Regions from separate parts of the Homo sapiens genome. Here region 1 is linked to region 2. Evidence: fine-mapped expression QTL. Tissue or cell type: tibial nerve. Region 2 holds a variant in brackets; the other region holds the start of a gene. All regions are shown on one strand. Distances are between the middles of the regions.

Region 1 (10,794 bases), 72 kb before region 2:
ATCTGAAATTATCTTTCAAATCCCTTTTATGGAGGTTGGTCTACTCAATCTTTCTACTTTGAGGGATTGATTCAATTAATATATTTTTGTCAGAAAGTATCCCTTTCCTTTATGTTTTAAAAATCGTCGTCATAGAGTTTCACAGAATACTTTCCCCATGTGTGTTAATTTGCAAGTTCTATTTTACTTTCCACGGAATAAATAGTTATATTCCTTTCCCAGGCCTAATAATACATGTAATGTTTTAATATTATGTAAGAAAAAAGTATACCAAATAATCCCTCCAACAGAAACATTTTATTTCCCACCTTTCCTTTCTCATTTCTTCTTTCTCCCCAGTATCAAGTCCTTAGGATGCTTTCAGGTCCCCACTCGCTCCTAACCCATTCTGGGGACTCTGTTAAGATTTATTTGTTATTTAAAAGTCTTCTTAAGTATTTTTCTCAGATGGAATGTGTGAATGCTCTATTCTTTAAATTCTTGCAAATATTCTTCTTTGACCAGACAAGCAAATGATCTTTTGGCAGGCTATAAAATATTTAAGCTGTGCTATGGTTTGACTGCGTCCCCGAAAGTTCATGTGTTAGAAACTTGATCCCCAGTGAGAAGGTGTCAGGAGTTGGGACCTTTAAGAAGTGTTTAGGTCACAGGGGCACCACCTTCATGGATGGATTAATGCCATTACCATGGGAATAGGTTTCTTATCGCGGGAGTGGGTTTCTTATAAAAGGAGAAGTTCAGCTCCCTCTTGCCCTCTATCTTGCCCTCTCTCTGCCCTTCCACCATGGGATGATGCAACAAGAAGGCCCTCACCAGATGCCAGTGTCTTGATTTGGGCCTTCCCAGCCTCCAGAACCATGAGCCAATATATTTCTGTTTCTTATAAATTATCCAGTCTGTGGTATTCTGTTATAGCAGCAAAAACGGACTATGACAGGGTGACTTCTTTCAGTTTTAGTAGGCTGTAGAATTTGTTTCACATTATTTTCACCTGCAAGGTTGTAGAAAGCAGTCCAATGCCAATCTGATTCTTTTTTCTTTACAATTAAGTTGTTCTTTCTTTCTGGGAGCTTGTAAAATGATCTTTTTTTTTTCTTCTGAGTTAAGAATTGTGTCTGTATATAACTGGGTCTTTTTTCATTAATGTCATCTATAATTCTAAAATCCTTTCAATCTGTAATTTTATATATTTTTTTGGTTCAGAGAAATGTTTTCCAACTATGGTTTTCCCTCCACCTGTGTTATTTCCTCATTCTGAGATTCCTATTATTCACAAGTTAGGTCTTCTGGATTTATCCTCTAGCTCTCTTACCTCCATATAGGATTCATTAAATCTTCATTTTCTCCGATTCTCCAGTCTACCCTTCCCAAAGCATCAGTAATATATTACTTACAATAAGAAATACTACAGAATTTGAATATGGCCATCTTCCAGTAGTACTAAATGGGAAAAAGCTCATAATTCACTATAATAATCAAATAATTTAAATTACCAAAGGATATCAACAATAAATGTTATTAAAGAATAGTACAAAATTATAAGTATAAAATTGAATATTAGTAGACTAAATGGGGTAAATTATTCCATAAAAGAAGTTTCTTCAGAATTTCTATTGAGAATAGAAACATCACATTTATCACTTTTCAAGTGATGTACTTTTACAAACCACATGCAGCAAGACCCTTATTCAAATACCTTAATAAAATATTTTTATATACATGTCAGATAATCTTAAAATGTTAGAGCCTAAGATCAGCTCCTTTCACTGATTTCCACCCCCCTCCCACAACTAAGGATAGACTACTCTAGGAGAGAATGTGGAAAGAAAAACCTTTCTTCTCTGTGTTCATTCTTTAGACTCACAGAGACTGTTTTGTTAATAATCAAGCATTGTAGTCAAAAGCAAATAGGAAAGCAACTCAATTTTTCATTGAAAAACATTTATCAAAAAAAGAAAAACATTTATCTTTTTTTAAAAATGCAAAAGCTGTTGTTGCACTTTAAATGTAATTGCTCTCATTGCTAAAGAACATAATTTGGGTGAATAGTAAGTTTCAAAGGATAATTAGGCACTTTACACAAAAGAGAACATCTGCAATCATCCCAGGAATGATGAAATTACAGGGCTATCAATCCTTGTGCTTCAGGGCATGGACTGATCACCAGCTGGAAGACAGAAGATATCCCCTCAATAGTATAATATTTCTATAATATTACCAATTACATTTCAATTTTTATTCCCTTTTAAACATAAGTCATTGGGGGGCTATAAAGCACATTATGGCCAAACAGTGCAACATGAGGGGAAAATCTTCAAAGGCCTTCAAGAATATTTTAAAGAAATGGATTCAAAGAAAAATAGTAAACTTTTGGCTGGGAGCGCTGGCTCATGCGTGTAATCCCAGCACTTCGGGAGGCTGAGGCAGGTGGATCACTTGAGGTCAGGAGTTTGAGACCAGTCTGGCCAACATAGTGAAACCCTGTCTCTACTAAAAAAAAAAAATGTAAAAATTAGCCAGGCATGGTGGTGCACACCTGTAGTCCCAACTACTCAGGAGGCTGAGGCACGAGAAACACTTAAACCTGGGAGGTGGAGGTTGCAGTGGGCCAAGATTGTGCCACTGCACTCCAGCCTGGGGAACACAGCAAGACTCCAGTCTCAAAAAAAAAAAAGGAAAAAAAAAGTAAACTTTCAGAGAAGGTGAGCAGAATATCATAGAAGTTAACAAAGAACATTTTGGGTACTTATCACATTCAGAGCTTGAAGAGAGTAGAACTCAGCACTTGTTGAATGAATGAATGAATGAATGAATGAACAAAGGAACAAACTTATATGTGTCCGGGTTCCAATCCCAGCCTCACCATATTTGACCTTGAGTACTTAAGTGTCTTTGCTTATCTTCAGTTTATTTATCTGTAAAATGGGAATAATTGTGCCTACCTCTTCTTGTAATTACAGGGATTTAACCAAGTAATGTATACAAATAAATAAATCCCCTGTTTGGAACAGGGTGAACTCTCAACAAATGAGTCATTTTAAGAGCTCTCCTAGGATTGACTGATTTAGCTAATTCCTAAACAAACAGATCTAACAATGAAATCATCTCAAGCGACTTCATAATAGACCAAATCTTTCTATATTGACTATATTATAAACCTGTGTTGTTCTTTTTGCGAACCCAACACTGCATTACACCATGAGACATCCTCTAAAATTCTTCTTTACTTTGAACTAAGCATAAACTTTCTGCTAATAAGATCTCTTAGATGATATACTATTATAAGCAGAGTTCAAACTCATACAAAGTGTAACAGCTGCTCACCTTGCTGGTCCAAGATATTGTGACTTGTGGTCAAATGCATACAAAAGCCATAAAAGGACACTCCTTTCTAATATTTTCTCAATAATTAACTTTCATTACAATTCAATTAATACTATATTGAATATAATTATTAGTAATTTCTCTTGGGACCTATAAATTAAGTGTATCCTGCAAGTGCAGCTAATGTCCCAACCATACCTGAAGAAATTTTATCTATGTCTGTAAACAGAGTGCATATACCTTTGGATGCTCTGGTCTCAACTAGTTGAAAGCCAGCTTAAAAATAAATCACGTCACATTTATGATTAACATGGCTTTAAATAACAATGGGGACTTTATTCCCCCACACAATGATCAACTACTGTTCTCACTGCAACTAAAGATGTTGAAAAGATAACCTAGTTTATTGGACAATTTCTACAAGGGCAGTGTAATAAAATGTCCATTTTTTTTCTGGACAATAAAGTACTTTTAAATTATCAACATAGCTGCATATAATCAAGTTATCTCCTGTCTGGAAGGTGGAAAATTGGAATATTTCTAGAACTTGCAAAGAGTTTTTGTCCTTTACTTCATGAATCATTCAGCAAAAGCCGGCTATGTACTATTTCAAATGTTACTACCTCAGAATGTCACTTGACTCAAAGATTTTCCTTTCCTTTTCTTCTTCCTCCCTCCCTTTCTTCCCTTCCTTCCGCCTTTCCTTTCCCCCCCCCTTCCTTCCTCCCTCTCTCCCTCTTTCCCTTCTTCCCTCCCTCCCTCCCTCCTTGTACAGGGACTAACACTAGAATCACCGCCTCACCATGCCCCTCGTTGGAAGAAACAGAAAGGCACACGATGCTGTAAGCTATGGCAGATGCCCAGGGCACGTGGGGTTGAATAATGCTGTTTGGAGTGAAACACTGAGACTCCGCAGTCACACAGTGATTCATTTACAGAGCTTTACTAAACTACGGGCACTCAGAAATAGACAAACTGTTCTTGCCTCAACCGAACCAAAGGCCCAGCGGGCCTCGAAAAAGCTCAGCCAGGTGCTTTGGGAGGCCGCGAGGAGGAAGAAGGATCCGTGGAAGGAAGCACGTTCACACCACGGCACTGAGGCCTCTGGGCCGAGCTATAATTTAAAGCATGAAACGAAGGGGTCATAGATTCTGACTAATGCTGACCATTTCCATCGGTTACCCAGTTGAATCTCATGTCGACACTAGGAAATCGACTTTATACATGCTCTTTAGGAAACGAGGGACGCAGGATGAAAGAAGCCAAGAGTGTCGCCAGGGCTTGCGCCAGCGCCGTCAGACTCCCGGGATGGGGGAGCTCCAGGGCACGGCGTCAGCGGATTCACGGAGAAGGAGAAAAGCCCCACTGCCGTGCAGAAGCCTAGGCCCGGGTGAGACGCCTGCGAAGGCTGCCAGCAGCGGAAGAGAAGGGGCGTCCTCCGTGCTGCGCAGCACTCGCCCGCGGTAGGTGGGCGCGGAGCTCAGAGCTGGGAGCCAAACGCAAACGCTGGCGAGAAGCCCCAGCCCCCTCCGGCAGCCCACTCGCTGCGGGGAGGGGTTTCTCACGCCCCCAGCTCCTGGGAGACTGCACCGGAGGTCGGAAGTAAGCCGGGCGAGGATGAATCATCCCGCCTAACTCCTCCTTCCCGGTCCCCTAGCCTCCGCACGCCGGCCCCCTTCAGAGATCTTGCAGCCGCGAGCGAAGACTGCCCTATCCTCAGACTCTACCGAACCCCCTGTGGCCTGCGGAGACGAGGAGACGGACGGGTCTGGTGGCCAATGAGAGCTTCGATCTCTTGCCCCCCGCCCAATGGGCCGCTGCTCATGGGCCGGGGCGGGACTAGGAGGGCAGGTAGGGGCGGTCCGGGCTGGCGCGCGGCGCGGCGGCTACGCGGCTGCGGCTCACAGAGCTAGCGCCTCTCTGGGTGTCCGTGCCAGTGCTGCGCGGGAAGGCACCACCACCACAGCCGCCGCCGCTGGCCAGGGTGCTGGACAAGACGGGCCCGTCGGCCACCTCGCCAGCTCAGGCACCCGCTGCAGCCGTCGCTGTCTCCTCCCAGACCGGTCCCCATGGAGGAGATGGAAGAGGAGTTGAAATGCCCCGTGTGCGGCTCCTTCTATCGGGAGCCCATCATCCTGCCCTGCTCTCACAATTTGTGTCAGGCGTGCGCCCGCAACATCCTGGTGCAGACCCCAGAGTCTGAATCCCCCCAGAGCCATCGGGCCGCGGGCTCCGGGGTCTCCGACTATGACTATCTGGACCTGGACAAGATGAGCCTATACAGCGAGGCGGACAGCGGCTATGGCTCCTACGGGGGGTTCGCCAGCGCCCCCACTACCCCGTGCCAGAAGTCCCCCAACGGCGTCCGCGTGTTTCCCCCGGCTATGCCGCCACCGGCCACCCACTTGTCACCGGCCCTGGCCCCGGTGCCCCGCAACTCCTGTATCACCTGCCCCCAGTGTCACCGCAGCCTCATCCTGGATGACCGGGGGCTCCGCGGCTTCCCCAAGAATCGCGTACTGGAAGGGGTAATTGACCGCTACCAGCAGAGCAAAGCCGCGGCCCTCAAGTGCCAGCTCTGCGAGAAGGCGCCCAAGGAAGCCACCGTCATGTGCGAACAGTGCGATGTCTTCTACTGCGATCCGTGCCGCCTGCGCTGCCACCCGCCCCGGGGGCCCCTAGCCAAGCACCGCCTGGTGCCCCCGGCCCAGGGTCGTGTGAGCCGGAGGCTGAGCCCACGCAAGGTCTCCACCTGCACAGACCACGAGCTGGAGAACCACAGCATGTACTGCGTGCAATGCAAGATGCCCGTGTGCTACCAGTGCTTGGAGGAGGGCAAACACTCCAGCCACGAAGTCAAGGCTCTGGGGGCCATGTGGAAACTACATAAGGTGAGTCCTAAGAAAACCCACTCCTAACTCCCTGCGTCTCCGATCATCCGGTTTTGCAGCAGACGGTCCCCGTCTCTTGCGCACAGCGCATCCCAGTGGGGGCGCAATGCAGGTGCCTTCGATGTTTACCTCCCTGGTCTGGTGCATTGCAGGAGGCATGGGGGAATCTTAACCGGCGCACGGGGGAGTTGAATGCCCCCACAGAGTTGTTGCGGGGATGCCTTAGAGCGGGTCTCTCGGGGCGCGCTGCCTGCGAGCGGGACTCAGGGCGCCCCCTTTCCGCGGCGGGTCTGCAGCCAGTGGCCGCGGCCAGTGTGTGGGAAAGCACTGCATAGCTGGGTAGAGCCGCGCCAGTGCCCAGGGCCGCTAGGCACGCTCGAGGGCAGGGCGGGCTGCGAACCCTCGGGGAGGGACTGGGATGGGGGCGGTGGGGTCGCGCGGACGGCGGGAGTCTGTCGCTGCTGGATAGGCGGACCTGGTGAGGCACGGCGGAGGGTCGGGGAGACGCCGCAGGCGGAATACTGATGAGCCCGGCTCTGGGCCAGACCTGGCTCTCGAGCTGGAGAGAACGCGGGGTCCTGGTGCCACGTGCTCAAAAGACAGAGCGGAGAGGGCAGCCAGCGGTCGCCATGGCAACGCGACGTGCAGGCTTGGGCCTGAACCCTTCCGGAGTTGGGACCTGAGACTAGAGTGTCAGGACCGGAGTTTGCGCAGTCGCGGCCTGGAAGCCAGACAGGTGCATCTCCTAGGGAAACCTTCTCCTCCCAACTATACACACACCCACTTCTCCGGAATTCAAGCCCTTTCCTCTTTCAGTAGTTATATGTGCAAACTTTGGGACACCTGTTACCAGATTTATCTTTCCAGTCTCTTTTGATGATATTTCCACCATGGCTAGACACGAAGAGGCTTTAGCAACATATTCTGTCGTGCCACTCCTCTGCTCAAAACCCTCCAATTTTTCCCACGCTTCTCAGCCTGTCCTACATGACCTCTTCCATTTTGGCCCCTTCGACCTCATTGCCTCCCACTTACTCCCTCTGCTCCAGCCACACTGCTTCTTACTGTTCCTCAAACGACGCCAGGCACCTCCCTACTCCAGGGCCTTTGCATTTGGTGTTCATTCAGCCTGAAGCTCTCTTCCCCAGTTACCTGAGATCCGAATGGGTCACTTACCTGCATCCTTCAGCTCTTTGCTCAGGTATCATCTTTGCAGCGCCACCCACCCAGACACCCGCTAGTTCCCTCTCAGCTTTATTTTCCTCAGTAGTATTTATCCCTGTGTGGCATGCTATATATTTTAATTATGTTATTTTTTGTATTTATCTATTGCTCCCTGTACACACACAGACATAAACGAAATAAGCCTCATGAGGAAGAAGATCCTTATAATATGCCCACACTGCTTAGAAGGAAGGGAGCAACTCTTGAGGAGATGTGCATGAATTTGCTTTTCATTTTTTAAATGATCCATTTAGTTGGGGCTGTGGAGTGCAGGGCAGGGATTCAGGATGGTTGGAAGGAGCTTTTCTTTACATCACTGAGTTGCATACCCAAGGATGAGATGGAGCAGTGAAGATAGTGTCCAGGCCTCAGCTGTGGCCTTGCTCAGAGTCTCCCAGAATTCCTTGGAGACTAGAAAGGGTAGCTTTTGCAAGTGGCCAACTGTGGAGTTAAGGCTGGAACATTGATATTTTGTTTACAGCAAGAAAAAAATGTCATTAATTTTCAGCAATCAGTGAAAGTTTTCTCAACTCCTTAACCCGGTTGAATGTGATCCATGTTTACAGTCATTCTATTCTCACATATAACCTATTAAATCATATTAGTACTGATGGGGATTTCATTTAGCACAAATTGAAGCCTAACTGGGCACACACCACTGTTTTCAGAACAGTCGAATTTAAATTTTTGAAAATGACATTTAATTTTGAAAGTTTTCAAAACTTGAGTTCACAGCTAGTTTTTTATTCATATTTTGATTTCACTTTTAAACTGCTAATTATAGTCCATGTTGAATTGCCCTACAAAGTATCCTTGGAACTAAAAAATTAATCACTCTGTCAGGAAAAAGAATTTAGAGCCACAAGGTAATTAGGATGGGTAAACCACAACATTATTATTTTTTTTATGACAAGCCTATCCTTGATCTATTAAGACCAAAAGAAACCTTTAAATCTCTGTCAAGCCCCATGTCAATTTGAAATGTTAAATCATTTGTTTTATTGGCAATAGAAATTATGAGTAGACAGACACTGGTGCTGCCTGGGTTGAGATTTAGATATCTACCTGCCACAAAAGAATGTTAAAACCCTTGAAACATGACATAAGTAGGCTAGAAGACCATTTATTCTCTGATCTTTTGCACATTTTTTCCAAAACAGTAAGGACACATAATTTTTGTTCAGTCAATATGAGGATTACTAAACTGCCAAGAAAAAAAATAAGACAGAAGGATGACAGATTTTAACATTCACTTGTCATCTGTTAGATGAACAACAAACATTACTCCCCCACCTTATTTACTTAATAAGGAAGTTAATGTGTTAGCAGCCAGTTTTCTCATATAGTTTATGTTTTAGTTAATGGTACTTCTATCTCCACAAAAGCCCATGGGCCAGAATTTCTATGCCCTGCAAAAATAGGACAGCAAAGAACTATACTAACTAGGTTTCCAAAATTGGGCAGTTAGTTATCAACACAGGTTATTACTAGACCTGAAAAGTTGTCATTCATATTCTATCATATTAGTCATTTCTACTGATAAAGCAAGTCCTGCAGATAAGTATTTCCCACAGGCATAAATCATCATCTTACACACTCAAGATATAATAAAATGGCTGCAGTTTATTTTTAAAGTGGTATTAAAAACATCTGGTTGAAATTCACTAGTTTTCAACTGGCCAGATTAAAATGTTTTTCAGATATTTTTGGTCTTCAAAACTCCATGAAAAATAATAACACATGAATAATAATAATAATAATAATGGTCTTATAAGTCAAATATTTGGTAGCAGTTTTTATTTAGTGCCAGTACTTAACTATATTCCTTTATTCAACGTACTTGTTAAAAGAATTATAACACCAAAAAAGTGATTTTGTAGATACTTTAAAATGGGCAATAGAAACCACTACTATTACTTTGTGATTTTAAGCAGTTCACATTCCTAAATCCTGATATTATCCTTGAATTCCTGGGGTTTCAATAGTCACTGAATCAGGGCTGGGTGCACTGGATTATGCCTGTAATCCCAGCACTTTGGGAGGCCGAGGCGGTCAGATCTCTTGCGGCCAGGATTTAAGACCAGCCTGACCAGCATGTTGAGACTCCATTTCTACTGAAAAATCAAAAATTAGCTGGGCATGGTGGTGCATGCCTTGTAGTTCCAGCTACTTGGGTGGCTGAGGCAGGAGAATTGCTTGAACCTGGGAGGCAGAGGTTGCAGTGAGCCAGGATCTCACCACTGCACTGTAGCCTGGGTGACGATGCAAGACTGTCTCAAAATAAAAAAATGAAGTCACTGAATCAGTAACATATTTGTAACAATTATTCTGTGTTCATGCTACTGAGCAAAGATTTTCTTTTCCTTTCTATTCTAAACACTATTCATTCTTAATCTTGTCTCAAATGTTATTTTTCTCTTACCTTTGTTTTTATAAATGAAAATTTGCAATTTAAACAATATTTTAAAATAAACTGTCAGTTAATATGCCTTCAATTCTAAAATATCCTGGAGAAAAATATCTGCTTAGCTTTATGGTGGCATCTCATTAAATATTTATGTAGCAAAATGTGTTATATAATGCCACTAAAATGATATTCAGTTAACTATATGTCAGCAGTAAACACAATATAGTCTATATATTCCTGTGGTAAATGTAACAGGCAGCATATGTTCATGTTTTTACATTTCTTTTGATTTACTTCTAGTACAATTAGAACATTCTGTGTGCCATGTAAACATTTTTACAGATATTAAGGAAAATGTTACAGAGAAGACAGTTATTCCTCTTTGTACCCAGGCATAATGGAAAGAACTAGATAACAGGAGATCCAGGTTATAGAACCAATGCTGCCACTTACTTGCAGGAAACTTTTTGCAAGTATCATCACCTGTCTGTACTTCCCACCTACAAAGATATAAGGGAGTTAAAATTACAATTGTGAAAGGATTTTGATAAGGTAAATTAAATGTTTATAATTTACTAATTTCAGTTCAACACAACCATAAACATTCATGTCAAACAGAGTCAATGTCTCACCAGTCAACAATTACTGCGTAAAAATCTCATCCCCCAACTTGGGGTACTTTTCTGGATCCTTTTCAGAGCATAGGGTACAGTCCAAAGCTGCTCTGAAAGGTGGCCTAAAAGAGTGAGACTCTTCCTCATGGGTCCAGAGAGAATATTCAGTTGAATTAAGCTCAAGAAATAAGAATACTATACAAAGATTTATATATTAAACAAAAGTATTCTGTTTTTCTCTAAGTAAGCTGAAATAGCTGATAAGGCTCCGTTTTTTTCAGATTCTCCAATAAAGATATTGTTACCAGTTTGAAGTAGCAGAAATTGTTTCTCC
Region 2 (10,794 bases):
GAGATCAGGGCTTCAGCTGCATCATTTTTCTCCTCTCATTCACCTTCAGATCGTGACACCTTTTCAGTAACCTAGAAAACAAATATCCAAGAAATCCGAATGTCACTGCTTAGGCATTATAAACAGCTTTAGAACGTACCTTTCTCCCTTAAATGACTGCTTGTACCACCAAAGATGCCGTGATGAAAACACATACTACATATTTGCATCTTCATTGTTCTGGTCATAAATTTCCAGCACTGCTCTGTGGTCCTGAATGCAGAACATCTTTGTTAGCACAGAGTAGGAATTTAAATGCATCTGGGAAACAAAATCAGTCAATAACAATGTTCTTCTACATCAGATGGAGCTTATAAATGTGATTAAAATACCAACCTATAAAAACAATGTGCATATAAATCCTTACAATAAGAGCACTTTCTAGTGATAGTTTTCCAGGATTTTTCATTGTCTCCTCAATTTCTACAAGTGGACAAAGCTTAAGAGAATGATTTCTAGATCTTTATCTTATAATGCAATTTTTTATCAAATACCAGAACAATCATCAGCCAGGTAGAAGGCATTCTTGGGACGGACCATAAACACAAAGAGGAAATTGGAAATAAATTGATTTTTGCAGTTCACTTACTGCTTTGTCATATAAAATCCTGGGACTAGATGGGGCCAAAACTCTTTGTCTACTACTAGGAATGATTGTATTTCTAAGTATACAGCAGCAACTGGTCAAAAAATCTATGGGTATCAAGTCTGTCTTATACAGACACAATTAATTGCAAGGTTGGAATACAAGACACCAGGCAGCTTCACTTCTGTGTAACCAAATCAATTTTACTTCTGTACTGAAACATCTAAGTGTGGTTACTAAACATAGGTTATAATAAAAAGAGGAAGAAAACTATGGTAGTCCAGCAAACTTTTACTCATTCAGGAAAAAAAAAAGATATGAGTTCTAAAGTAACAATGAAAAAAAATTTCTTCTTTAAAATATGCCTCTCATATTATTGCCTGCTCTTCCAAATGAGACCGTTTTTCCCTCCTTTATCCCTTGGGCTCCTGGAAATATTAATAGTTATTGAGGAGAAACTTTTACTCCAAATAATATTGTAGCTGAGACCCAATCATAAAGAATTTTGCAACTGTAGGCTCACTTTGAGCTTTATCTTACTCAGTTGTGTTGGTCTTGCCTCTTGGAGCCTAAATACATAGAGCAAAGTACAGGTGATCGAAAATGTTCTCCAACAGACCCTGTTCCAGGAATCTGTCCTGCGAATCCCTCCAGTCAGCAGGTGTTTGTGTGAGCAAGAATGAAGAAAACAAATAAGAGTTAACAGCTGGTTGGGCACGGTGGCTCACACCTGTAATCCCAGCACTTTGGGAGGTCGAGGTGGGTGGATCACCTGAGGTCAGGAGTTTGAGACCAGCCTGGCCAACATGGAGAAACCCCATCTCTACTAAAAATACAAAAGTTCACTCGGTGTGGTGGTGCACGGCTGTAATCCCAGCTATTCGGGAGGCTGAGGCAGGAGAATCGCTTGAACCTGGGAGGCAGAGATTGCAGTGAGCCAAGATCACACCATTGCACTTCAGCCTGGGTGAGAGAGTGAGACTCTGTCTCAAAAAAAAAAAAAAAAAAAAAAAAAAAAAGTTAACAGCCAGCATTTATTAAGCACGCATCATGCACTGTGCACCAGTAGGGTAATAGGGTTCTGGGCTTTAGATATAGTATCTTATGCAATGCCCACAAAACCCAAGAATAGTATTCTTCCTCTGATTTTATGGATGAGGTAAAACAATGTATAAAGGGTTGAACAGCCAGTAACTGGCAGCATTTCAGAATTCAGAATTGTTCCCTTAACTAGCAGAAGCTTTCACATTGATTAATGCATTCAACCCTCACAATAACCCAACTACAAAGTATTACTGTTCTTCCCACCTTTTCCATTGGAGTAATTCAGACAAAGGTAACTTTCTCAAGGTCACACTTATAGGGGATAGAGCGAGAATCTGCACCCTTTCAAACCTATATTCTTTCTACCATCCCACATTGCCTCAACCAAGCATTTGGTGTGCATATTTTTAGAGAGTCAGTGCCCAACTTTGTATTTAAAAGACAAATATAAGAGAAAAGCATTCACAGCACCAAGAGATATAATTTTAAGGTTCTGCCCTTTTACAGAAAGGAAAGGGTAGATGAATCATTGTGTTGGCAAGGAGAATAGGCTTTAATTTGAAAAGAAGACAGTGCAGGAAAGGGAGTCTGTCTCTGTACCTGAGGTACGGAAGGGTATACCCAGACTGCTAGGAGGGGAAGGAATTTGTATCAAGTACAGTGATACTTGATATAAATTCCTGCTAGCAATAGAAAACTCCAGAACAGTGACTTGAATAGGAGTTAATTTTTATCACATAACAAGAAAGCTAGTGGTGAAGGTTTCAGGTGTTGACTCAGCTGCTCAAAGATGCCATCAGAACCGAGCTCCTTCCCCTCCCATCCCTCCACCCATACCCTATTGGCCTTCTCCTCATGTGAGCCGGAAGACATCACATCCATCCTAAAGTCAGGAACCACAGTGGAGAGGCTGCATCAATCACAGTGGTTCCGTATCAGCAGAAAAGCAAAAGCTTTCTCAGACCCCTCCAGTCCCCAGCAGACTTCCACTTAGGTGTCGTCCGTCAGGATTGTGTACCACGGCCTCCCCAGCGGACGAGGAGGCTGGAAGAGCAAGTACCTACCTGGACACCTTGCCAACCCAGCAGAACTGCCTCCTCGTATGGATGGGGTGGTGTGGGAAGAAAGAAAGAGAGTAAGCCTTGGTGTCGGAGGCTAGTGAGGAGAGGACACAAATGTGCTAGGGCAGCAGGGCTGTACTTGGGAGAAGGAAGAGGACACGGATGAGGCAGGAGTGGAATGTCATCCTGCCCATTGAATTTGTGATTATATTTAAGTGGCCCCAGAGGATCACACCAGTACCTACCCCTTCCTTCATCCTGTTCTTTACTCTATTCTTTCTGCCCTACCCAGACCAATAGCCCTTTGTGCTAAGTAACGTTGATAAGAATTAGATCATCTGACTCACTATTTTGTTTTGCTTTTTTAGTCCTTAGCAAATATGTATTCAATAAATGATTGTTTAATTAATCAATGAAGGAGGAGATGAAGAAATTCTAGGTTGATATCAGCTGGTGAGGGCCTTTGACTGCTGTGGCCAGAAGTGTTCACTGCTTCCAAGGAGAAACTACTCAGGAGCACAGGGAGTTTCGACACCAGAATCTACCTGTACAAATGCCAGCAAAAAGGTCCAACCTCAGACAAGAGGAATCTGAGGAGGTTGATGACTCTTCAGTTTTGAGTCTCGCTGGCCTTGTTGGTGTATCCTGTGATTACAGCTCCATGGCTTCCTTCTTTGTCTTTGCAGAGCCAGCTCTCCCAGGCGCTGAACGGACTGTCAGACAGGGCCAAAGAAGCCAAGGAGTTTCTGGTACAGCTGCGCAACATGGTCCAGCAGATCCAGGTATGGGTGTTACCTGGGACGCAAGGAAACCCGCCGGTTAATACGTAACTGTGTGGCGGGAGAGTTTCCTTCTCCTCTTTTATTTTTATGTGTCGTGGGAAAATTCCTATTTTGTGGTTGTTGTTGTTCTTTACATACAAACACATAGAGATCAACTTCAAACATACCCCTTCTTGAGGTAGTTACTTTTTGCCAACAAGCCGGAAACACAGCCTGATTTTCCAACTGGTTCCTGTCTTCCACACTGAGGTCCTAATTCTCTACTACTGAATATTCAGAAAGAGGCCTATTTTTTTGTAAACTCAGGGTCCTTATTGTTGAGCTTGTAAAACCTTGTAGGTTTCCAAAACACCTTGTAATAATTGTATCATTTAATGGTAACAGGCCACAGTTTTCTCTTCTTTTCTTCCTTCATTTCCTTCCTGCCTTCCTTTTTTTCTTTTTCATTCCTCCCTTGTTCCTTCTTCCTCTTTTTTCTTCCTCCCTTTCTGCCTTTCTTTCTTCTTTTCTTCCTCCCTGACCCACAATAATGCTTCTCCTCTGCTTAGACATTTAAATATTTTTCAACCATGATCCCCTGGCAACTATAATTTCAGATTGCTTTATCTAGACACAATGACCAGCAATTCAACCAGCATTTAAGAGCTCATAAATTCTCCACTATAGCTGAAGGAGAAAAACCATAAACTGTATAAGACAGTAAAATAATGACCTTCTGTACTGTTTAGCATTCTTATGTTTTGAGGTTTGCCTCACAGAAATAACCTTAGTTCTGGCCTCCAGTAAATTGCCTAAGTTCATATTTAACCATGTCAAGGTAGAAATGGATTTTTAAATGTAAGCCACCCTTTCAAAGAATTACACACTGATTTCTTTGCCTTTTTTTTTGGCACACATGCCCATGTTAAACTTTTGATTCCCTAACAGCCTAGCAGTTTTGTATACTTCCTTCTGTTTTCCAAAGCAATGGAGTTTATCA[A/G]TCAGTTCTTTCTTTACTCTGCTGGCATAAAATGTGCAGCCCCAGGCTTGCCTCTGCCCGGGCCTCTTCATCAGAGCAAAGCTTTCTTTCTGCTCTAAATCAGTGACAGAGCTTACAAGGAGAAGGTTTCCCCTCACCCCACCCTCCAATATTACCCTGCATGTGGCATAGAGAGCTCTTAAATGATGTTTTCCAAAGGCCTTCTCTGAGAGTTCAAAAGCAATTGCCGTGAAAGCCAAAATTTAGCATTGCTCAAGCAATTACTAATGCATTCCTTATACGAAGACCTTGCATTTGAAAACAATTACTAAATGCCTACCAGTTGATTATTATATAAAAAGACACAGTTCTTTATGACTTTGGTAATAAATTTAAATTTGTGCCTTAAATAAATTTAAATTGTGCCTTTCTTGCCAGCCCCAAAAGTTTACAGTTTACTCAACTGGGTGGTGTTTTTTAAGTATTACTAACGTATATGTGAGTATTTAGCTTTCGTTTACTGTAAATTACTTTTTTTCAGATTATGCATATATATGCAAAATTGCATATATTACTCATTGAAAAGCTTATCCTTAATAACTGCATATAACTCATTGAAAGAATTGCTTAAAATAAATGTCTATGGCATGTACAGATTTAAATCAAATAAAAAGGTTATATCCAGCATTTAATTTAAACATCACAGGGAAGCTATAATTCACTTAGTATGAAGTTGCCTTTCCCCTGCAAGGTGTTGGGTCATATCTGATTTTTATGGCAGGGTGATCCCTGTTACACACATTGATTGTTTTTTTCTGCCTACTATTTGCTTTCCTTAATGAAAGGGGCAAGTACTTTTACCCATTATTCTTATAAACTTCTGTTCTCATTGGATTATTGTTAATATTGAAGACCAGTGCCATCCTTTTTCTTCTTTATTCCTTTGAATTTAATGATTTCTCGTGCCTCAGCAATGCCCCACTCCCTCCTCATTGCCTTTTTGAATGCCAGCTTCCACCATACATAGCTGAACATATGTGGCCCTCAAAAACATTCATAAACAACTCTATGAACTAAAGCTTTGTTTTGCTTAATAGAATTCAAATTGTGGAGATGATTTCCTTTTGATAAATTTAAGTGATAAATATTTATCCCTTTTAATCTAAATTTAAAGCAAAACATGACCACTGTAGAATAAAGTTTATCCAGTTATTTTTTTAAAATTACCAAATGTGCATTGTGGACAGAGTTCCTTTTCATTCCCTTCAGCAGGATGGGGGAGCTCTGTTTTCTCTGGCAGCCTGAGGCACCCAGCAGCTTGCAGTTGAGAAATGTGCTCTGTTACACAGGAGAACAGTGTGGAGTTTGAAGCCTGTCTGGTGGCCCAATGTGATGCCCTCATCGATGCCCTCAACAGAAGAAAAGCCCAGCTGCTGGCCCGCGTCAACAAGGAGCATGAGCACAAGCTGAAGGTGAGTGCTGCATCATGGGAAGAGCAGAAAGCCAACAAGCCAGGCTCCCGAGGGGCATGATGGACAGGCTGGGAGAATTCCTTCCCATGGACAGGAGGAGAGGATGCCCACAGCCTTGGGTAGCCAGTGGTCTGGCCAGAAAGGAACAGACACCTCCCTTCATTCACTACCTGCTCCTTCATTTACCCAAATAATGTTTGTTGGGTGACTTTTCTCAGCCAGGAACTGCAATGGACATAGGAATAATAAAGAAATCAAAATTCTTGCCTTCATGGGACTTATATTCTATCAAGAGGGACAAATAATAAACAAGATAAGTGTCTTCCTCCATTTTATGTTGATATAGCGGAATCCCACAGACTGGGTGATTATAAATAATAGAATTATATTTAGCTCATGGTTCTGAAGACTGGGAAGTCCAAAAGCATGGTGTTGGCTTCTGGTGGGGCCTTCATGCTGCATCATCCCATGGCAGAAGGCAGAAGGACAGGCGAGCATGGGAAATGAGAGGATAAGAGCCAAACTTCAACCTTTTATTGGGAGCCCACTCCCATGATAATTAACCCACTCCCAAGATAATAGCATTCGTCCATTCATGAAGGCAGGGGCCTCATGTCCTAATCACTCCTTAAAGGCTCCACCTCTTAATACTTTTATAATGGCAATTACATTTCAACATGGGTTTTGGAAGAGATATTCAAACCATAGCAATAAGTAAGTAAAATATGGAGTATATTAGTAAAAAGTGCTAAGAAAAATTCTAAAAGTAGGAAAAGAGGATGGTGAGTACTGGGGATAGGGGTGGAAATTTTGGATAGGGTGGCCATACACAGGCAAAAAAATGTGTTTTTGAATTGAAAAATAGAATCTGTACTTTCTAGAAAATGAGCATGATTTGTCTTAACTTCTCAAGTGAACTTTACAGTTGGAAGCTGTAAAGAATTTTGTCATGACATGGTGGAATCAACTGGCTATTAGAATGGGACCCTATTGGCAGGACTGGTCCTCCAGGAGACATCTGATATTCCATCTATCACCCCATTGGTGCAGGGCAACAAGATGTGAGAGGAAGGATGAATGCATGGGAAGAGCAAACCAGAAGGGGTCCAGCAGTAGACAATCAGCTGAGGCCCACACATGTGGCCAGCAGGCTTCAGAGTGGCTACTGGTGGGTGGTGGGTATGTGGTGTGCAGTGTTGATATGGCATTAGGATGAAGGGAGAAATGAGGTCTGGTCTTACGCTCATAGTGCTGGCAGGGGAGCAGGAGGAGGCAGGGACATGAAGGTGGTTCAGAAGGACTTCTGCCCTTATGGAGTTTACAGTTCAATGGAAGAGATAAGCTATACCCACAGCTGACTCCAACATAGGTACAGAGTGGGCTTCCAGGAGAGAGGTGCCCAATGTCATAGAAGTTTGACAGGGCAAAATTACTTGCAGTTAAAACGGTCACAGAGTACCTCAAGAGCTGGCACCTGAGCAGTCCAAATTGTAGGAAGTGTGTGTTAATGACCATTTACATTCCTACCTGCAGGAATCGGCAAAGCTGTCAGGGAAGAAGTGGGTGATTAGCACATGTGCACTGTGGTCTTGTTCCATCTGGTTAGGCCTGAGGACCAAGGGATGTTTTCTGTATCCAGCACCTGGCCTAACATTGCTAAAAAACTGTCACTATAGCCCTTCAATCTGAGCACCCTTCAGAAACCCAAAACTTTTATTGTTATAGCAGTCCTCAAAATATCATTCGAATCACATAGAACTGTATAAAATAAAACCACAAATGTCTTTGGGAAATGAAACTGAACAGTTTTCCCCGCTAAATAGTGGAACAACTATTTAAGTACCTAGCCATAACATTTTAACTTTCTTCTTAATGGAAATATCTCTTTTGAAACATTGCGAACACTTCCTGGCACTTTTTAACAGAACATGGTGAACAGTTTGCGACAGTCACATGGTGATGGTAGGGCAACTCCAGCCTTTCTATATGGGAGAGACATAAAGGCAGCAATCTGGAGGAGGAATTTTTTGATGATTGAGAATGCATCATTTATCCCTATCAAAGAATGGCAGAAGGCATGAGAAGCCCCGTTGCCCTCCTGCTTAGTGTTGCCTCTGCAGAACAGGACTGTGTGAAAATCAGTTAAGGACTGTGCTGTGGCTGCAGATGTCATTGCCCAGGAATGGCTTTCACGCATCGCTGGGATGCCACATCGCGTGACTATGTCCTCTTCCCTCCTCTGATGGTCCATCTGTACTGGCTAGGCTGCCCCAGCAGGGAATGCGGATGCATTTGGGGGCCACTGAGCAGAGGCAGCTGCCTGCCCTCATTCCACCCTGCCCAGGCTGGAGTTTCCTGCCCAGACCTCAAAGGACTGCAGAAACCAGAGACAGGTGGCTGGCTGTCCCCCATAGCAGCAAAGCTGTTCTGTCTTCTATCTCGAATGATTTGTTTTTCTGCTGTTTTCAGCTGATTATATCTGTCATTGCTTCCAAAAACAGCCACCAGTGCCACTCACACTGTCATGACCACTGATACAGGCCTCCACGGCTCGCTCGCTCTCCTCTCCCCCTGCCTTTTCCCTTTCTTGTCACTCTTGTTGCTACTCAGATTTGTGAGAAAAGACTGGCCTTTTATAGACATCACTTGCCAAGCACAGTACTTCTTTCTATCTTTGTTGGCTAACCCATCACTCACTGTCCTGCAGGGGTAATCTTATGTTCTTCCGCTTCCCTTTGGCTGAGTTCTCTGAGGGCCTGCTTTTTGCTGACAAAGAGAGGAGTTGTGTGTGTATTTTTCGGGCAACTCTCTCTCCTTGAGCAATCCAAAAAACTAGGAATGCTGGAAAGTGAGTGTGTACTTACGCAGTCTTTATAATCTACTCATGTCCCTCTCTGAAAGCACTGATTGCTTGAACAGATTTAATAGTTCTGGTTCTGAGGCAAGATGGAACTGAGTGGTAAAGAGCCCAGGTTCTGTGTCATAGAGGCTGGGGTGAGAGGACACACTTTCTCACTTACTAGGTTTCTCATCTTGAGCAAGTCTGTGGCTCAAAAGTTTATTTCATCTGTGTGTAAAATAAGGCTGGAAGTGGTACCTCATAGGGCATTGCAAAGCACTTAGCACAATCTTTAATGTATATTAACTGTTATTGTTGTGATTGAGAGAGAATGACTGGAAATATGGTTTCATTCAACACCCTGAAGAAGAGTTTCCAGGGGCTTGTTTTCTATGATACCATAATTCATAGCCTAGAATTAGCTCATACACTGGTGTTATTATCCATGAACCTGGGAGATTCTTTAGTGGCATGAGTTCATAATTGATCATTGTATAAAATAGTTCACAAAGTTTGATGAGCTAAAAAAAAGCAAAAAAGCTTTGGAGACATATGCAGATGTGGACATGTTTGAGGGAAACTGTTTGAAATGTAAATTATAGTTAATACTACTCTGTGGTTTGATAAGATGCTGGGAGCCAAATATCTATTTTCAGAATGTGGTGAACTAATGCGAATGTCAGAAAGCTACTGAGGGAAGAAGTGTTTTTGAGCTTCCAATAAAAATATTACTAACTCATATTTGGAACTACTTGGGCAGTATTCCAACAGTGAGCAGAGCACACTGGACCTCCAGGTTTCTTGTCTTGGTCTGTCCATTGTGTTAACATCCTTCCCAGGTCTGCTTTAGCTGAAGAAAGCCTACATTTCCTATCTGTGCTCCTCACAGGGAATTTATGACAACACTTAAACTAAATTGTGCCATTAATGAAATCTATGCTTTCTTCAGAAACTTTACATATGCCACTTTCTCTTGATAAGCCCAAAGACATATCTGAAAATTATTTGTTGTTTATGTAACATTCACAATTTGACATAACCCTGAAATTGTCTTAAATGTGTTCTCTCTAATATTTTAGAATGAATTCACACATTGAATAGTAAGAGGCGATATGTATTTTCTTGATTACCTTTGAACTCTAAGATAATCTGAAAGAAAAAAAATGTTACAGTTATTCCAAATGATTCTGGGGAAAAATTCTAGCTTTCAGTTTCCATGTGTGGTTGGTAAATTTAACATACCAACAAAATTACTCAGCGAGGATGCTGAGGGCTGATGAGAAAGCTTACCATGTTGCGCAGTCTTCATATTAATATTTACTGAGGGCCTCCGTGTGCCCATTGTAGCTATCTGTAGAATGCTTGATTTTGAGGCCTAGTGTAATCTATGAGTTTTGTTAGAATAATTATCATTCTTTTCACCATTATCTTTGTTATTATTTACCATGTATTGCCTGTTATGATCCCATTATGTTTGCCAAAAATTAATTATATCACGTATTAAGAACACAAATTTACGTTACGGATATTATTGGCATATGAACTGCTTACTGCAGCTATTTTGCCATCGTTTTATGACAGGCAAATAATCCTTTGATTCAGATGAGAGAGAGGAAAGAAAGAAAGAAAGGGGGGAGGGAGGAAGGATAGAAAGAAGGAAGGAAAGAAGGAAAGAAAAAAGGGAGGGAGGAGGGAAGGAAGGAAGGAAGGCAGGCAGGCAGGCAGGCCATCCCAGCTCACAAAAAAATTAAAAATAATTAGATACTATTTGACTGGCTACAGTCATTACTAGAAAAAAAAAGCAACTAATTCAAGCCAAGAACCACCTCAATCCCTGTAAAATTAATGACAAAGAACTCAGTTATTCCATTACAATGAAGACATTTGGAAAAATTAGGCACACTGGAACAACTTGAAGCTTTCAACTGCCCTCAGCAGAAGTCTGTAGAAGCCAATTCTAATTATTTAACCACAATTATGATTGATTACAAGCCCATCATGAATGATGAATTC

Evidence for each region. PIP is the estimated chance that this variant, and not a neighbour inherited with it, causes the effect.
Region 1: TRIM9 starts here. The variant in region 2 is fine-mapped to the expression of TRIM9 in tibial nerve (GTEx, PIP 0.99).

What each region holds. Positions count from the first base shown.
Region 1 is chr14:51,089,539-51,100,332 of GRCh38, reverse strand. TRIM9 (tripartite motif containing 9) reads left to right here and starts at 5,228. Exons shown (of 13, transcript NM_001387360.1): 1 at 5,228-6,215. The coding sequence starts at 5,394. RefSeq lists a silencer at 5,167-5,236.
Region 2 is chr14:51,017,983-51,028,776 of GRCh38, reverse strand. It overlaps TRIM9 (tripartite motif containing 9), which reads left to right. Exons shown (of 13, transcript NM_001387360.1): 2 at 3,417-3,512; 3 at 5,820-5,942. Among named protein-coding and RNA genes, the nearest start is that of TRIM9, 72 kb to the left of the region's middle. RefSeq lists an enhancer at 1-386. The variant A/G (reference allele first, on the strand shown) is at 4,492.